2 separate regions of the Homo sapiens genome follow, and region 2 is linked to region 1. The links come from fine-mapping of genetic effects on gene expression. A gene starts in region 1. The other region holds a variant in brackets. All regions are shown on one strand. Distances are between the middles of the regions.

What was found. PIP is the estimated chance that this variant, and not a neighbour inherited with it, causes the effect. A credible set is the group of variants that fine-mapping cannot tell apart.
Region 2: its variant is the best candidate, but not a certain one, in a credible set for the expression of PAPSS2 in whole blood (TOPMed, PIP 0.54).

Annotation. Positions count from the first base shown.
Region 1 is chr10:87,656,786-87,664,785 of GRCh38, forward strand. It overlaps PAPSS2 (3'-phosphoadenosine 5'-phosphosulfate synthase 2), which reads left to right and starts at 3,093. Exons shown (of 13, transcript NM_001015880.2): 1 at 3,093-3,223. The coding sequence starts at 3,197. RefSeq lists a silencer at 2,841-3,080.
Region 2 is chr10:87,686,980-87,694,979 of GRCh38, forward strand. The region is part of intron 1 of PAPSS2 (3'-phosphoadenosine 5'-phosphosulfate synthase 2); the gene reads left to right. Among named protein-coding and RNA genes, the nearest start is that of PAPSS2, 31 kb to the left of the region's middle. The variant C/T (reference allele first, on the strand shown) is at 3,291.

The DNA of each region.
Region 1 (8,000 bases):
TTCTTTGTATATCCTTCTCCTGTTTATTTGGAGGAGTTGACTGATTCTATCTTTTCTAAACAATATAAGGATCAACTAGCAATCACCATTTTATTAAGTTATGCAAGTGCAGACAGCTTCTGGAAGGAAGAAATGAAAATGAGATGGTGGAGAAGGGGTGGTACAGGGGAAACCTTCATGTAAATGTTATCAGTAGTATCAGGGATGATCAATTGGCACAATGTTATCTATGGTGTTTTTCAGGGAAGTCTTGGAGGGAACACTACTGAAGAAGTTACAGATTCTGTGTCTATATGAAGCAGAAGACCTCAATCCTTCCTCTGTCCCCTGAATGAGTCTTCTCCCAGTTCCTATATGTCCGAATCATAGGCTCCGAAAATTAAGTTTCTCGTTGCTCATATCTTTTCAGAAGGAATGTCCTCTCCTAAGAGCAAGAGGGTAGTGAGATGAAAAAGAAATCTATTGCCTTTAAAAGGAAAGACCCTGAGAAAATAAAAAAAGAGTGTTTTGCTTTTTAGTAAACTGCTGTGCTGAATCACGACTAAATTGGTGATCTGTGACATCAAAGGGTCATAAACAGCCTAGCTTGAGTCCAAAAGAACTGAGGCCTCCATTTTCACAGTAAAAGAATGCCTATTCCAAAATAATTTTTGAGAATGAATGAAATCTAAAACAAGATAAGCAGTCCTGTTTACAGTTATCATGGGGTATTGAAATAGTTGGCGTGGAAGTTGGGTGACTCAGTGGGCAGGACATTTGGGGTCAGAGCACTTGGGAAGTCAGGCTGACCTGCGTTAAAGCCTCAGCTCTGCTCCTAACTAGTGACTACGGTCAGATGCCCTCCCTTCCCTAAGCGCCAGTTTTACATTGCTCATATGTAAAATACAGGAATGGGGAAATTGGACAAATGATCTCACAACCTCTCCCAGATCTAAACAATCATATATTTCTTTTCCAGGAAGTAGCTTACGTATTTGTCCTTAACTTCCTGTTTCAAGAAGACAGCTTTTTGTTTTTAGATGCAATATAAAAACAAAATAACAATCACGCAAATTGCTATTTTTCTTTTTTTTTTTTTGAGATGGAGTTTCACTCTTGTTACTCAGGCTGGAGTGCAATGGCGCAATCTCGGCTCACTGCAATCTCTGCCTCCCGGGTTCAAGCGATTCTCCTGCCTCAGCCTCCCAAGTAGCCGGGATTACAGGCATATGCCATCACATCTGGCTAATTTTGTATTTTTATTAGAGACAGGGTTTCATCATGTTGGTCAGTCTAGTCTCGAACTCCTGATACCAGGTGATCTGACTGCCTCGGCCTCCCAAAGTGCTGGGATTACAGGCATGAGCCACCGTGCCAGGCCGCAAATTGCTATTTTTCAATTCACATTTACTTTACCTTTTCTTAGGGCAAGATCTGGCAGAGTCTAAGATATGGTGGAAACTAATATAAAAGGATTTTTCCAATGAAATAAGAATAGGATGTTGCTATTTAAACTTCATATACATTTAAAATGTGCTAGTTTGTATGCAGAACAGAAACTCAAACTCAGTATTTGCCCCTAGCTGCTTACATTGGAAGGCAGTGGTGGCAGTTTACTCAAAATGAGTAAGAAAATAAATCAGCTTACAACTCTAGACTGTACAGACATGCAGGCTGCCTTTTACGTTTCTGACTCCTGATTTATTTTTCTTTCCCACCTTCCCACGGCGAAGGGCAGTCAATGAATACTCAGATCAAGTGTCTGTCTGGAAAGCTGGCAGTCTTCCAGAAATACAATTAGGTATGAAAGAAAAGTCCCATCCCTCACCTCCATAGAATATTACTCCAACTCTTTCACAGCAGGAACACTAGAGTGGGAATGAGAAGTGTGGCCCTTGTGTGTTACGTTACTTCTTTTGAGAGTATGGTCATATCCATCCGTTTGTAGCATTACACAAGGAGTCAGTTAAGGTACAAGGGGTGTGAGACCCAGTGACTGCCCCCAAAGTGCTTGTCACTAGAGCTTCTCTCCCTCACCTCTACTTGGCCTTGACATTTGGGTTCGTTCAGAGGGTTGCCCCATACTGCCTTTGGGTTCGTTCAGAGGGTTGCCCCATACTGCCTTCTGGTAAAATCTTGGCGCCCTAGGCCTAAGCCTGCTCATCTTGTGCCTCCTTTTCCTCCTCCTCAGGGCCCATTCCAGTGGAACAGAAGTGCTACTTTGGGGGTGGACTGAAACAAGTTGCTGGGCTTCCATTGGCCATTGCCACTTGCTTGTCGTTGTGAGGAGGGGCCGTGCCTCCACAGGCCCATACCTGTAACCTGACGATACTGTTGTGAGCGGGAATGGAGGAAGTGCATGGAAGCCCCTCAGCACGATGCATAGTGAACAGACAAGCTGTGAACCTTGGGAGTTATCACCATGTGTGATGATGCTGGTGAAGAAAGCCTGCACTGAGGAGGCTGTCAGCCTGGGTTTGAATCCCCTCATTTGGAATATAATCTTGGCAAAGTCTGAAAGCCTCAATTGCTCGTTTGTAAAACTGGAAGATAGTAGGACTTGCTGCCCGGGGTCGGGGCAGGATGGAGGGGGCCCATGAGAATTAAGGCAGAGCCCAGCGGAGTGCATTGTAAGGATCCATGAGTGTGAACCTTCGTTTTTACTACTGCATATGAGGATCCTGCCAACAAACCTGGCGGCTTCAAGCATCCTTGCCCTTAACCAAATAAGCTCTTAGGTCCTAGAGGCAGGAAGACTTCCTTGAAGAGGCGCGGGAGGCTGGTGAGGGGAGTGGAGGACGCTCTGGGACCCTCTGGGGGTGGGGCGGGCGGGGTGAACTTGACCCCAGGCCGCGTGCCGGGCGTGCCATCTGCCGCTCCGCTGCAAGGTCTCGCCCGGGACCGGGGCTGGCGGAGCGCGCGCCCGCGAGTAGGGGCCGGGCCGGGGACCCCGCCTAGGCGGCGGCGGCCGGGTCCCCAAGGCTGGGCGCTGCTTGCGGAACCGACGGGGCGGAGAGGAGCGTGGCGGGAGGAGGAGTAGGAGAAGGGGGCTGGTCAAGGGAAGTGCGACGTGTCTGCGGAGCCTTTTTATACCTCCTTCCCGGGAGTCCGGCAGCCGCTGCTGCTGCTGCTGCTGCTGCTGCCGCCGCCGCCGCCGCCGTCCCTGCGTCCTTCGGTCTCTGCTCCCGGGACCCGGGCTCCGCCGCAGCCAGCCAGCATGTCGGGGATCAAGAAGCAAAAGACGGTAGGCTTCCAGGCGCCGGCTTCCCTCCCCGCCACCGCACTGCACGCGCCGACCCCCAACCCCCAATTCCCCGGCACTTGGGTCCCACCCTCCCCGGGAGGGGGCGTCGGGAGGAGGAGTAAGAGTGGGGCACGGAGGGAAGCAAGAGAAAGAGGCTCTGTGTGGAATTCCCGGGGCAGTCCTCGCCCCGCAGCCCCTCTCCACCCCGCGACTCTGGGAATCTGCGCTCCTTGGGGTCGCCGCGCCCGCGAGAGACCTCCCGAGCTTCTCAAGTGGGTCCGGATCTAGATCCAGGACCAGGGACAGGAAATCCCCTTTCTTTCCCAAGAGCTCTTCCAGACCCGCCTTTTCTTCTGTAGGGTCTCGGAGCAGATCGAGCTGACTCCCGTTCTGCCAGGTCTGGTCGCTGGGGTTTTGTCTATGGGAACTTCCTTGGAGTGGGCTTTAATGACGGACTTTCATAGAGGAAACTGCAATTATCAAAGCAAACTGGAGGAAATTGCATTTCTACACTGGCGGGATTTAGCCCTCTAGCTTGATTTCGGCATTGGGTGGCATCTCGAGTTCAGTAATGAGGGGTGAGGGTGCCCCTCGGTTTGGTGGAGTAAGATGAGGGGACTGTGTTGAGGAGGCACACTTTTACCCAGAATTAATAATCTGAGCTGTCCTCCTTTAATGGGAAATATGAGGGCGTGTCAAAGAGAAAAGTTTCTTTCCCAGCAACATGGGCACCTATAAATTTTGCATTCTTAAAAATGGCAGCAGTTCTATTTGTCAATTATACCCCAATAAACTGAAAAAAAAAAAAAAAAAAAAAAAAAAAAAACCGGGAGCAGTAATCATAGACTCTTAGAGTTGGATGGCGCCTTCTAGACAGCACTGGGGCCACGTCAGATGTGGTCAGCAAGCCTTGATAAAATCCTACTCAGCAGTTTGGCCGCTGAACATTCTATCTTCAGCCACCACCCTGCAAGCCTCAGATGATTGTACTGGTTACTGAATGGGTTGACCTCTCTCTAGTAGATAGACGTGCAATGGACACATAGTAGGTGCCTGATAAATGTTTATTCTTATATAATGTGTATTACCGAAATATCTTTGAGGTGTATTTGTGGTGGGCCGGGGAGAGGTTTAAAAAAAAAAACAAAATATAAAGCCAAGAAGTGGGGAAGGAGTGTGGAGGGGCCATGCAGGGCTAGAAGGGTCATTTGAGCAGCAAGAGAACAGGGTGGGGGCTCTGTGGCTCCAGGGACCATACTGGACCAGCAGGAGGGTCCAGGGTGTAGGTGGCATCAATTTGGGAAGGGACATTTATCAAAATCCAGCTGCCTTTCTCAGGAGTAATTTTTAAGTGGGGGACTCTCAGCGTTGTAACATATTTTTGAAATAATAAATGAAAATCACTTGTATTTTGTTCCTATTTAATGCGATTAATTTCTGTAAAATCCTAAATAGTGTCTTCTAAATGGCAAGCCGCTGTGCCAGTAGCTTTTTATATCAGTGGGGTTTTAATTCCCACCTTCCTGCTTGCATCAAGAATTCCTTCTCAGTTGTGATGGGGGACTTTGTCAAGCATTAGAAAGGGACGAGGTGGTCTCTCCTCTTGATGCCTCCAGTCGGCAGGAGCCCAGGAAGAGGAGGGTTTGAGAACAGGGTCATTACAAATCAATTGCGGGGGCTCTGCACAGTCAGAAGCAGTGAGAAATTTGAGGGCCGGAGGGTTTGGTTTTTGTATTTACACATTCTGAACCTTCTATTTTTTGTTAGGTGGGTGTATGTGTGTGTCTGTTTTATACAGCATTAAATTAACTCCTGAAACAGCTAACTGAAATAGAACTTTTCTGAATTTTGATTTAGTCTAACGCAGTTATAACCCAGGCACCAACCCAAGTTCCCAAAAGGGCTAGATAGGTACTATCGGTACTATTTACAGCAAGCCAGCTGTAAATGCATGTGGAATCTCTCAAGCTTTGAATGTTCATTCAAAATGTGTTTTGAAACCTTGCAGGCCAAAGCAAAATCTGTCCGCTTGTGTGACCTCTGAACTAATCAATTGTTTGATAAGTATTGCTGACCTCACAAGCTAGCCTAGGAGTGAGACTGAGCTGATCTTTTACGGTCTTATAGGAATCATCACATTGTTTACTGCACTGTCAACAGAGGACAGTTAATTCACACAGCAGCCACTACAGTAACTTCAAATATTTGTTGAGCACCTACTGTATGCCAGGTGGTATACTGGGTGGGGGAGGCGGAAAAGGAGATACCTCTTTTCCAGGTTTTTTTGGCCACACTCTCTGGATGAATATTGCCTTTCAGTTCAGACCACTCTAGGAAGAGGAGATAGTTTTGGTTTAAATGAGAGAGTGTAGGATGACTTTTTCATAAGCTTTAGAAAAAATAAATTAAGTGTTCTTTTATAAAGGAAGGTAGCACATTCCTTCTGTTTTATGCATCTTTACCATGGAAACCAAAGAAACAGCTACCAGTCACATTCATCCCTTCATCATTTCCACCCCTCACTTACCTCCAACCCTGGCTACCCTCCCACCCCCACCCCCTATACACACACATAGACACCTAGGAGAGGGAAAGGGACAGACTGCCTCTAGGGGACTGGAAAGAAGGGAAGGCAAAGGCCTGGGCCTTTCCTCTTACATCATTTCCTGGATTAACATTTTTCAAGGCCCACAGACAGTGCTGTTATGTTCTGGAGACACCCAATCTGAAAACATTGACTGAGATATTAAGTTATTTCCGAAGGATCAAATAGGAAAACAATTGGAAAGGAGTGAAAAGATACTGAAAACCACAGCGCTCTCCATAGATGTAAGGGATTATCAACCTTTTCCTTATTTATTTTCTTTCTTTCTTTTTTTTTTTGAGACAGAGTCTCACTCTGTCACCCAGGCTGGAGTGCAGTAGCGTGGCATGATCTCAGCTCACTGCAACCTCCGCCTCCCGGGTTCAAGCCATTCTCTTGCCCCAGCCTCCCAAGTAGCTGGGATTACAGGCACCACCATCATGCCCTGCTAATTACCTTTTCCTTATTTTCAGAATTGTGCACAGTATAACATTATTTTTCTAGAAGTAGCCACTTTTTTTTTTTTTTTTTTTTTTTGAGATGGAGTCTCGCTCTGTCACCCAGGCTGGAGTGCAGAGAAGCGATCTCGTCTCACTGCAACCTCCGCCTCCCGAGTTCAAGCAATTCTCCTGCCTCAGCCTCCCGAGTAGCTGGCACTACTGGTGTGTACCACCACGCCCAGCTAATTTTTGTATTTTTAGTAGAGACGGGGTTTTGCCACGTTGGTCAGGCTGGTCTCGAACTCCTGACCTCAGGTGATTCACCCACCTTGACCTTCCAAAGTGCTGGGATTGCAGGCTTGAGCCACTGCCCCCAGCCAGAAGTAATTACTTTTAAAACTATATAAAGACACTACCGAAGGCAAGACATGAATTCTAGATGAGCAACTACTGGAAGGAGGGACAAAAAGCATTTCCTAGAGGCCAGACACTCAGACATCTCATCCCCACAGTAGCTCTCATCTCAGGAAACAGCTTTGTCTTCAGGGGAGGAGAAATACCAGGGGCAGGGCACTACTGAAATTCAGGTCTGTCCAGCTTCAAAACTCATGCTCTTGACCCCCTCCGTACTTCTGTTTCAGGATGTAACTGCTCTGGCCCAAAGTTTTCTCATCTGTAAAATGTGGGTAATAATAACTTTCCCCTTACAATTGTCGTGAAAAGTAAGTAACTCCTAAAAATTGTCTTGCTCAGTGCCAGACCCAGAGTTAGTGCTTCATATGCAGTAGCTATTTCATTTGTATTAAACTATACTGTCATGGTTTGGCATACATAAAAAGAAAAAACAGCACACATCATACTGTTTTGAAGACTCAGTAAATGACAACAGCCAGAATATTTTTGTTTTGTTTTGAGACAGGCTGGAGTGCAGTGCTGCTATAATGGGTCACTGCAGTCTCGACCTCCTGGGCTCAAGTGATCCTCCTGCCTCAGCCTCCCAAGTACCTAGTACTACAGGTGCACACCATCATGCCTGGCTAACTTTTAAAGTTTTTGTTGTTGTTGTTTTGGTAGAGATGAGGTCTCACTCTGTTGCTCTGGCCAGTCTTGAACTCCTGAGCTGAAGAGATCCTCCTGCCTTGGCCTCCCGAAGTATTAGGATTGCAGGCTTGAGCCACTGTGCTTGGCCAGCCAGAATATTTAATAAGGAAAAACAAATGCAGAAATATAGAGGTGACAATTTGAATTCTTATTGTGATAGGCTGGATAGAAGACACTGGTTGACCTCTGGTAGAGGTACCAGAGTATCAGTGAGTTTTTGCCAACAACTTTGGCCAAGAAAGATAATCCATGCATAGAGTAAATATTGGACTAACTTCTCTCCACCCTTCCTGTGCCTTCAACTATTCCTATGTGCACCTTAAAATTAGTGTTTCCCAATTCATGCCATCGCCATTTATTAGATCATCTGTTTGGACTTTGGTGCGGTTAAAAGATAAATGTGGTTAACTCAGTTATATGTCTCTTTGAGATAGTTATCTTTGTCTTTTATCACTTTTCTGTTGATGCATGTGGCTCTGTGGTTTGCTGAGGGGATAATTAGGCTTACCTCTAACATGGAACTTTTAGGGAATTAGAGTCTGGGAAAGGCATCAATGATGTCAATCTCAGTCCTAGGAGATTTCTGTTTATTTCAAAATCTATCACTAAATAGTAATGGGCACTCATTAGTCTTTGTGTTTGGAAGTCTTAG
Region 2 (8,000 bases), 30 kb after region 1:
GACAAACAAGAAATACTTTTTTGATATAAGTATGTCTCAAATATTGCATGGGGCATCCTATGTTTTTATTTGTTAAATCTGGTCATTTTAACTAGGTTTGCAATATATTTTCAGCACAATTTCAACAGTTCATATTTGCTGAGTACTTTGGGCATGATGGTTAGAGTCAGAGGTGACTTTAGGAGCTGCAGGCCTTGTGTGTGTCCCTTTCACCACTATCCCCACAGCCCCAAGTACAATCTTTGGCATATAGTTGAGCTCAATAAATATATTTTGAAAAAATTAATCAAAATGATAAAATAAGTATGGACTATGACTAACTGATGATGCTTATGACGTAGGTGGGAATACAGGCTCCTATATTAAAAAAGTTATTGTGGCTAATACTATCTTATTTTGGATTTTAACTGGTTAATTTGCTTAATAGACTAGCCCACTTGGTTGAAGGATTCAAATTCTAAATATACGAAAGGTTATTTCCATTTCAAAAAGTGATGCAGAAAGACAAATAGCATGTTCTCTCACTCATATGTGGATTCTAAAGATGACCGCATAGAAATAGAGAGTAGAATAGTGGTTACCAGAGGCTGGTAACGATAGAAGGGAAGGGAGGATGAATACAGTTACATAGGAGGAATAAGTCCTGGTGTTCCATTGCACAGTGAAGTGCCTATAGTAGCTAGAAGAGAGGATGTTGAATGTTCTCAGCATGAAGAAATGATAAGTGTTTGAGGTGATGGAATGCTTACCCTGATTTCATCATTACACAAGGTATACATGTATCGAAATATCACCTTGTACTTCATATATATGTACAGTTATGTCTCAATTAAAAATTTAAAAAACTCTTAAAAAGAAAAAAGAATCAAGAGAGAAGAATACAAAAAATGATGATTAAGTGGAAATTAAACCATAGTTTTATCTGGATTTGATGTAATTTTTTAAATGATTTGATTTAGACTGTGCTATTGGACAATGCCACCTATTTTCTTTCATATACACTTTTATTCTAATGTTCTAATCAATTAAGTCCTGTATATTTAATATTCATTTCTGTCAGGGTTGAATTTGATCCAGGAGAAATGGATGTGTACTAACTAGTCAGGTGTAACTGGAATCTTACTATAAAGTAAAAATTATTGTAGGCCTTCTAAGGAATTTATAATTCATTAAAATACATATAATAACACTAAAAAGCTAATTAATATATAATATTCTAGTTAAAAATTAGGCATATATGACTATATGCAATAGTGTGGAAAACAATTAGGCATGGAAATTATTGTTAGAGTTTATTATTTTTCAAAAGATAATGATAAAACACACCTGTAAATTTAATATAATTATAAATTCGTCAAATCTCAGGATGGTAAAACCTTAAATATACCATTTGTAACTGACATTATGTATTCTCTTTCTTCTTCAGAGGAAAACCCTGAAGAACTATGGAAATTTCTTTTTTATTTTATTTATTTATTTATTTATTTATTTATTTATTGAGACTAAGTCTCACTCTGTCACCCAGGCTGGAGTGCAGTGGTGGGATCTCTGCTCACCTCAAGCTCCGCCCCCCGGGTTCATGCCGTTCTCCTGCCTCAGCCTCCCCAGTAGCTGGGACTACAGGCGCCCGCCACCACGCCTGGCTAATTTTTTTGTATTTTTAGTAGAGACGGGGTTTCACTGTGTTAGCCATGGTCTCGATCTCCTGACCTCATGATCCTCCCGCCTCGGCCTCCCAAAGTGCTGGGATTACAGGCGTGAGCCACCAAGGCCGGCAGAACTATGGAAATTTCTAAGAAACAAAAACCCAAACAGTCCTTCTTATTCAGACTTCTTTGTAAAACCGACCAAAATAACTCTCTCTTTTTCTTAATTGCTTGAAGTGATACTCACATTCAGTTCCACTAGTTGTCTCTAAGCAGTGGTATAACCAGAATAATTGGAGTCCCACCTGAAAGAAAAGATGGATAAATTTAACTACCTTAAAAAAAAAAACTGTATGGAAAGCAACTCCATAAACAAGTCAGAAACAACATTATTCACAAAGTTAAGGAATAAAGAACCAGGGGTCAGGGCCGGGGCCAGTTGCGGTGGCTCACGCCTGTAATCCCAGCACTTTGGGAGTCCAAGGCGGGTGGATTACCTGAGGTCGGGAGTTGGAGATCAGCCTGACCAACATGGAGAAACCCCGTCCCCACTAAAAATACAAAATTAGCCGGGCATGGTGGCACATGCCTGCAATCCTAGCTACTCGGGAGGCTGAGGCAGGAGAATTGCTTGAAACTGGGAGGCAGAGGTTGTGGTGAGCCGAGATCATGCCACTGCACCCCAGCCTAGGCAACACGAGCAAAACTCCATCTCAAAAAAAAAAAAAAACAAAAAAAACCCACAAAGAACTTGTGGCCTGGGGGACAGGCGCAGTGGCCCAGGCCTGTAATCCCAGCACTTTGGGAGGCCGAGGCAGGTGGATCACCTGAAGTCAGGAGTTCGAGACCAGCCTAACATGGTGAAACCCCGTCTCTACTAAATACAAAAAATTAGCCAGGCGTGGTGGCGCATGCCTATAATCCCAGCTACTTGGGAGGCTGAGGCAGGAGAATCGCTTGAACCTGGGAGGTGGAGGTTTGCGGTGAGCCGAGATCGTGCCATTGCACTCCAGCCTGGGCAACAAGAGCGAAACCTTGTCTCAAAAAAAAAAAAAAAGAAAAAAAAAAAGAACTGGGAAGATTACATAATATCTTCAGGGCTCCTGCAAATTATAAGAAAAGACCAATAATGGAATAGAACAAGGGGTAAAGAGTATGAATGAGAGTCCAAAAAAGAAAAAGGAAAAAATACAAACAGTCGTAGACATAATAAAAGGTGTAAGGTGTACAATATAGCTTATAATAGAAATTTAAACTAAAATCACATTGAAATACCATTGTTCATTCATCAGATTGGTAGAAATCCAAAAGTCTTGATATACTCTGTGGCAATGCTGTTGGGAACTGAAACTCCCATCCATCGCTGGTAGGAGTATAGATTGGTGTAATATTCTATAATGGACAATTTAGTTATATCTATTGATATGACAGATGTTCATACTGATTGACCTAGTAATCCACGTCTAGCAATTAATCCCACAGATATATTTTCACATGCAAAAAATTAAGTATAAGGTTATTAATTATTGCAATGTTTGTAATAATAAAAGACTGGAAATCATCCAAGTATTCATCAAAAAAGAGCTAGTTAAATATATATTCATACACCGGAACATTATGCAAGGGTAAAATGAATGAGAAAAC[C/T]CTCTGTACTGATGTGGAAAGATTTGCCAAGACAGATCTGAAAAAGGTGTGTAATAGTGTGGAAAGGAGGATTAAGCAAATAAATGCCTATTTTAAAATTTATGCATAAAAAACTGACAGAGCATGTAAGGAACGAATAGAAATGACCATCTACTTTTAGAAGTGAGGAGGAGGGAGGCTAGAGAGATGGGGGCGGAGGCAGAAGTGGCAGCATGGCTTCTGCATACCTGCTTGTGTATATATCTTTTCAGTTTTTGAGCCATGTGGATGTGACTTATGCAATAATTAAATAATTAAGAAGAATATAGCATGAGCTAGGTCCAGAAGCCAGAGAGAACAGGGATATCTGGGGGAATTTCAGGGGTTAGATTGATAGGTGTGCAGAATGTGAAGGTGGAGTGGTAAGAGATGAGATGAAAAGACCCATTTTAATTATCATTAAAAACAACTATTTTTCTTTTTCTAACATTTATTGAGAGCTTAACTAAGAGCCAGACCCTGTGCTTTTATGTACATTTCCTCATTTAATCCTCATAACAGTTCAGTAAGGCTGCAGCTGTTATTACAATCATTTTATAAGTGAAGGAACAGAGAGGTTAAGTAATTTACTTAAGGGCATACAGCAGTTGGCCACTGGTGGAATCAGTATGCACAACCCATCATGACCCTGTGTTCATGCTCTTAACTTTTGTACCATTCTGCTTGTTCAAGGGAACATACATCCAACTGAGGGAGGTGGGGTGAGGGGCAAGAGTTTCTATCTTTCTACACAGTGAATTTTATTAATTCTGTAGAGCTCATCTTACAGTACTACCAAGTATGGCTGCCCCCAAATCTGTGACTCAGCCAAGATTATTTTTAAATATTTCCCATTCTTATGACCTATCCACCACTTTGGCACCTATCCTCTTCCAAGACTATCTCAGCATCTGGCTCGCTACCTTTGACCATAACAAACATTTGAATAACAAACCAAGTTTATGAAGTATCATGGGCATGACAAATTAGTTTAAGAAACATTCATTCAGTAAATTTTGAACCCCCATAGTATTCCAGGCATACAGATTCAAAGATAAACGTGAGCAAAGCAGCCTCTCTGGTGTTCCCATCTGGTGAAGAAGGCCGACATGTCAGCAAAAATCCATATTTAACCTACGTTCTCTTATATTGGTTAGTGTTACCTAGATTTGCCTAAGCATTAAAATCACTTGAGACACTTAAAAAAAAAAAAAGGCAACAACATAAAAACCCTAGTTTCTTGGGCCCTACCGCCGACCACTTGAATGAGAATTTCCTGGGGATGGTCCTGGGAATGTGTATTTTTAACAAGTGCCCATGAGAGTCTTAAATTAGGTAAGTTTGGGAAATGAGATATCAGTAGAAACAGGATACTGTGGGGTCAGAGGAGGAAGTTGCTCAGTCTGTCTGTAGGTGGGAAGATTAGCCAAAGCCTCACAGCAATGTTTAGGCCACACCTTAATGAGTGAGTAAGCACCCAAGGAGAAAGGACTTTCCAAGCAAGGAGAATTTTAAAAATTAGCCAGGTATGGTCGGTGCACACCTGTAGTCACAGCTACTTGGAAGGCTGAGGTGGGAAGATCACTTGAGTTCAGTGAGCCATGAACATGCCACTGCACTGCAGCCTGTGTGACAGAGTAAGCAAGACCCTGTCTCTAAAAAAAATAAAATTAAAGGGAATTTTACTCTACTGGCAAAGAAGAGAATGGCTTCATGGAAGAGAGGGAGTCCAGTTCAAAGGCTGTCAGGAAGACTTCTGGGAGCAATTAGCTAACTAACAGTGATGGAATGGCGTTTAGCTGAAATTTGCAAGACTTGATAGATTAATTTTTTTAATGAAGGAGACAAGCAATAGGATGGCTCCTAGCTTACAAAATGGGGAGAAGTGTGGGTCATCGCTAGTGGTGAGGAATATGGGAAAAGGAGCAAAGGGTGATGATAGGAAGATGAATTCCATCTTGATCCTGCTGAGTTTCAGTGGCTCTGGGGGGAATCATACCTACTAGGCATTTGGATATCTGAAGATAGAGATTTGGGAGCCCGCAGCATATGGATGGTAGACAAAGCCTTGGAAGCAGGTACAAATCACTGAGGGGTGTAGGGAGGAAGAGTAGAAGAGTGCTGAAGGCAGAGCTATGGATCCCTGACCCTAAAGAGAGATGGAGGAAGAGAGGAATATGGCAAGGAGTCTATGGAAGAGCGATGAGAAGACAGAAAAGCTCTGAGAGAGAACATTATCTTGGAAGCTGAAGAGAGAGTTTTCCAGAAAAAGAGTGGTCAATGGGAAGAAATGGAAGAGAGATGCTGTTTTAGAGATTATTGGCTGCTTGTTGTTTCTGCTTCTAATGCCTTGGTTTGCCAAATCCAGTCCAGATTCTACATGAATCTCCAGTTAAATGGTCAACCATATAACTGACAGGTTGTCTGATTTTATACAGCTTAAATTCCTAAGAGAATCTAATGGGTTCATCCTGTGTGTTGATTTCACTTGGGTCAACCTAGTGCAATAAGCCATTTTATAGGGAGGGTAGCCCGCGAGGTTGAGTCTGTAGCTGTGGCTGAGCAGATCACTGAGTGTGCAGGGGAAAGAGGATAAACACTGAAGATCTTGCCAATAATCATCATAACAACCCCCAATGTTGATTAGGCACTGTTTTAAACACCTTACACGTGGTAATTCATTTAATCTGTTTGAATATAATGGTGAGCATGGAAGTCATATTACAGTGAATTGAGTCCTCTACTACTAATAATGACAGTAAGTCTCTAGAAAGGCGTTAATCTGACTCTTCCAAAAATGCCCTTTGCTTTGCTCTCCCTTAAAAGGGCAGAATCCTTCCCTGGGTCCACTTTTGATGACTGGGTGGGAGACTGTGCCTTCTGATCAAGTTTCCTGAGTTCTTTTAATGGAATCATCAGAATATCACACATAAAATGAGGCCTTGAGCCAGGCTGGCATGGCCACACTGAAGTCCTGTGATTCTGTTTACCTGAGAGCATGATGAGTTTATTGGTCTTTCTTAGCCTTAGGAATCTGCCTTTCCAGTGCATGGTGTTTAGACAGAGTAGCAGCTGAATGAATTTTGAATTTAATTGTTCCCCAGCAGAGAGTGAACAACCTTTGCATATGCCAGCTTTTTGTGTAGACTTTTCAGAATGGTGATTTCAGGTCATTTCCAACCGAAGGACTCTTTCAGTTCATAATAACACATATTTTAATTAGCTATCTTTGGATTGTTCATATTTGTGGAGGAAGAAGCAGTGGAATAACCTACTTGAGAATGTGCTCAGAGCATGTGGCGCGTTTGACATACAAAAGCACTGTATTAAATAAGTGTCCAGTTCGGTCGTTTATTTAGATTTAGTTGATAACTTGGATTTCAGCACTAACTGAAATGCATTGGTTCACATTAGCTTAATCAATTCTCATAGAATATGGAGAGCTCACCAGAACTATAATTACAACAGCACATAATTATTTGATGCTGATTTCAAAGGATATTTTACAAATGCATTTGTGAATGGTAGTTCGTTCTTTTAAACGTTTGGACTGCTTTGGCTTTTTCTGTGGTGGGGCCTAGAAGAAGACAGGTCACAGCAGGTCTCACTTGAAGAAATCTTTAACACAGAACATAAAAGTGACTGTAACTAAAGTTTGGAACATGTCATTTTACTGAGTACTGACACTAGAGGAGTTTGTTTAAGGATATTCACATCAGTTAACAAATCAACGAAACGTTTATTAAACTTCTGTTACTCATTCAACAAATATGTAATGAATACCTACTATAAGTCCAAGTATTCCACATCATCTCTTTTCATCCTTGCAAACATTAGCAGGAACTATAATCCCACAATTTTATGAGATGTAGAGAGGTCAGGCTTAGCTTGCTCAAGGTTCTAGTGGAGGCAGAATTTGAACTGCTTCCAAACTGTCCAACATTAAAATCTATATTACTTCCTCTTAGCTGGATCTTATCAGGAAATCAAAGCTGTATAAGCTATGGCCCCTTCTGTGTGGGGTTGACAATGACATCTAAAACATCAGACTTAAGTCTATAAATCTAGAAAACATAAGGCATAAGTCTACACCACCCAGGCAAAGTGCCACAGGATCTCATAGCTACAGGAGTTTAGGAAAGAAGCATCAAGGAAGGCAGCCAGCACCCATGGGGTTTGTGCTGCTTGGAGAACAGGTGGTATGTGGATAGTTGAGGGCATGGAGAGATGATTCCAGTGGGAAGAGCTGAATGAGAAAAGGTGCAAAACCAGAATGACCAAGCTGTGTCCAGGAAATCATAAACAGACCTGCTGCTGAGAACAAAAGTTCTGTTATCTGAGAGTAGAAAATATGGCTGAAAGGTAAATGGAACCGGCTTAGCGGAGGGCCTTAAGTTCCAAGCTAAGGATTAGGACTTTGTTCTGTGGTTTATAGGAAGTGATTACAAGTTTTGGATATAAAAGTAACATGATTTAAGGGTGTTTTAGAAAATTAACCTGATTGTCAACTGGAAAAAGAGGTGATAGAGCTGGAAATCAGTAAAGGGGCTCTGGGCCAGGCAGGGAAATGATGTGATGGCTGCTTTACAACCTTGAGGAAACTCAGAAGGAGTAGGGTTCATGGGGGACTGTGTTCAGGAACAGGTCCAAAAAGTTAGGCCAGGCCAAGGGGGATATTTACGCACAGCAATG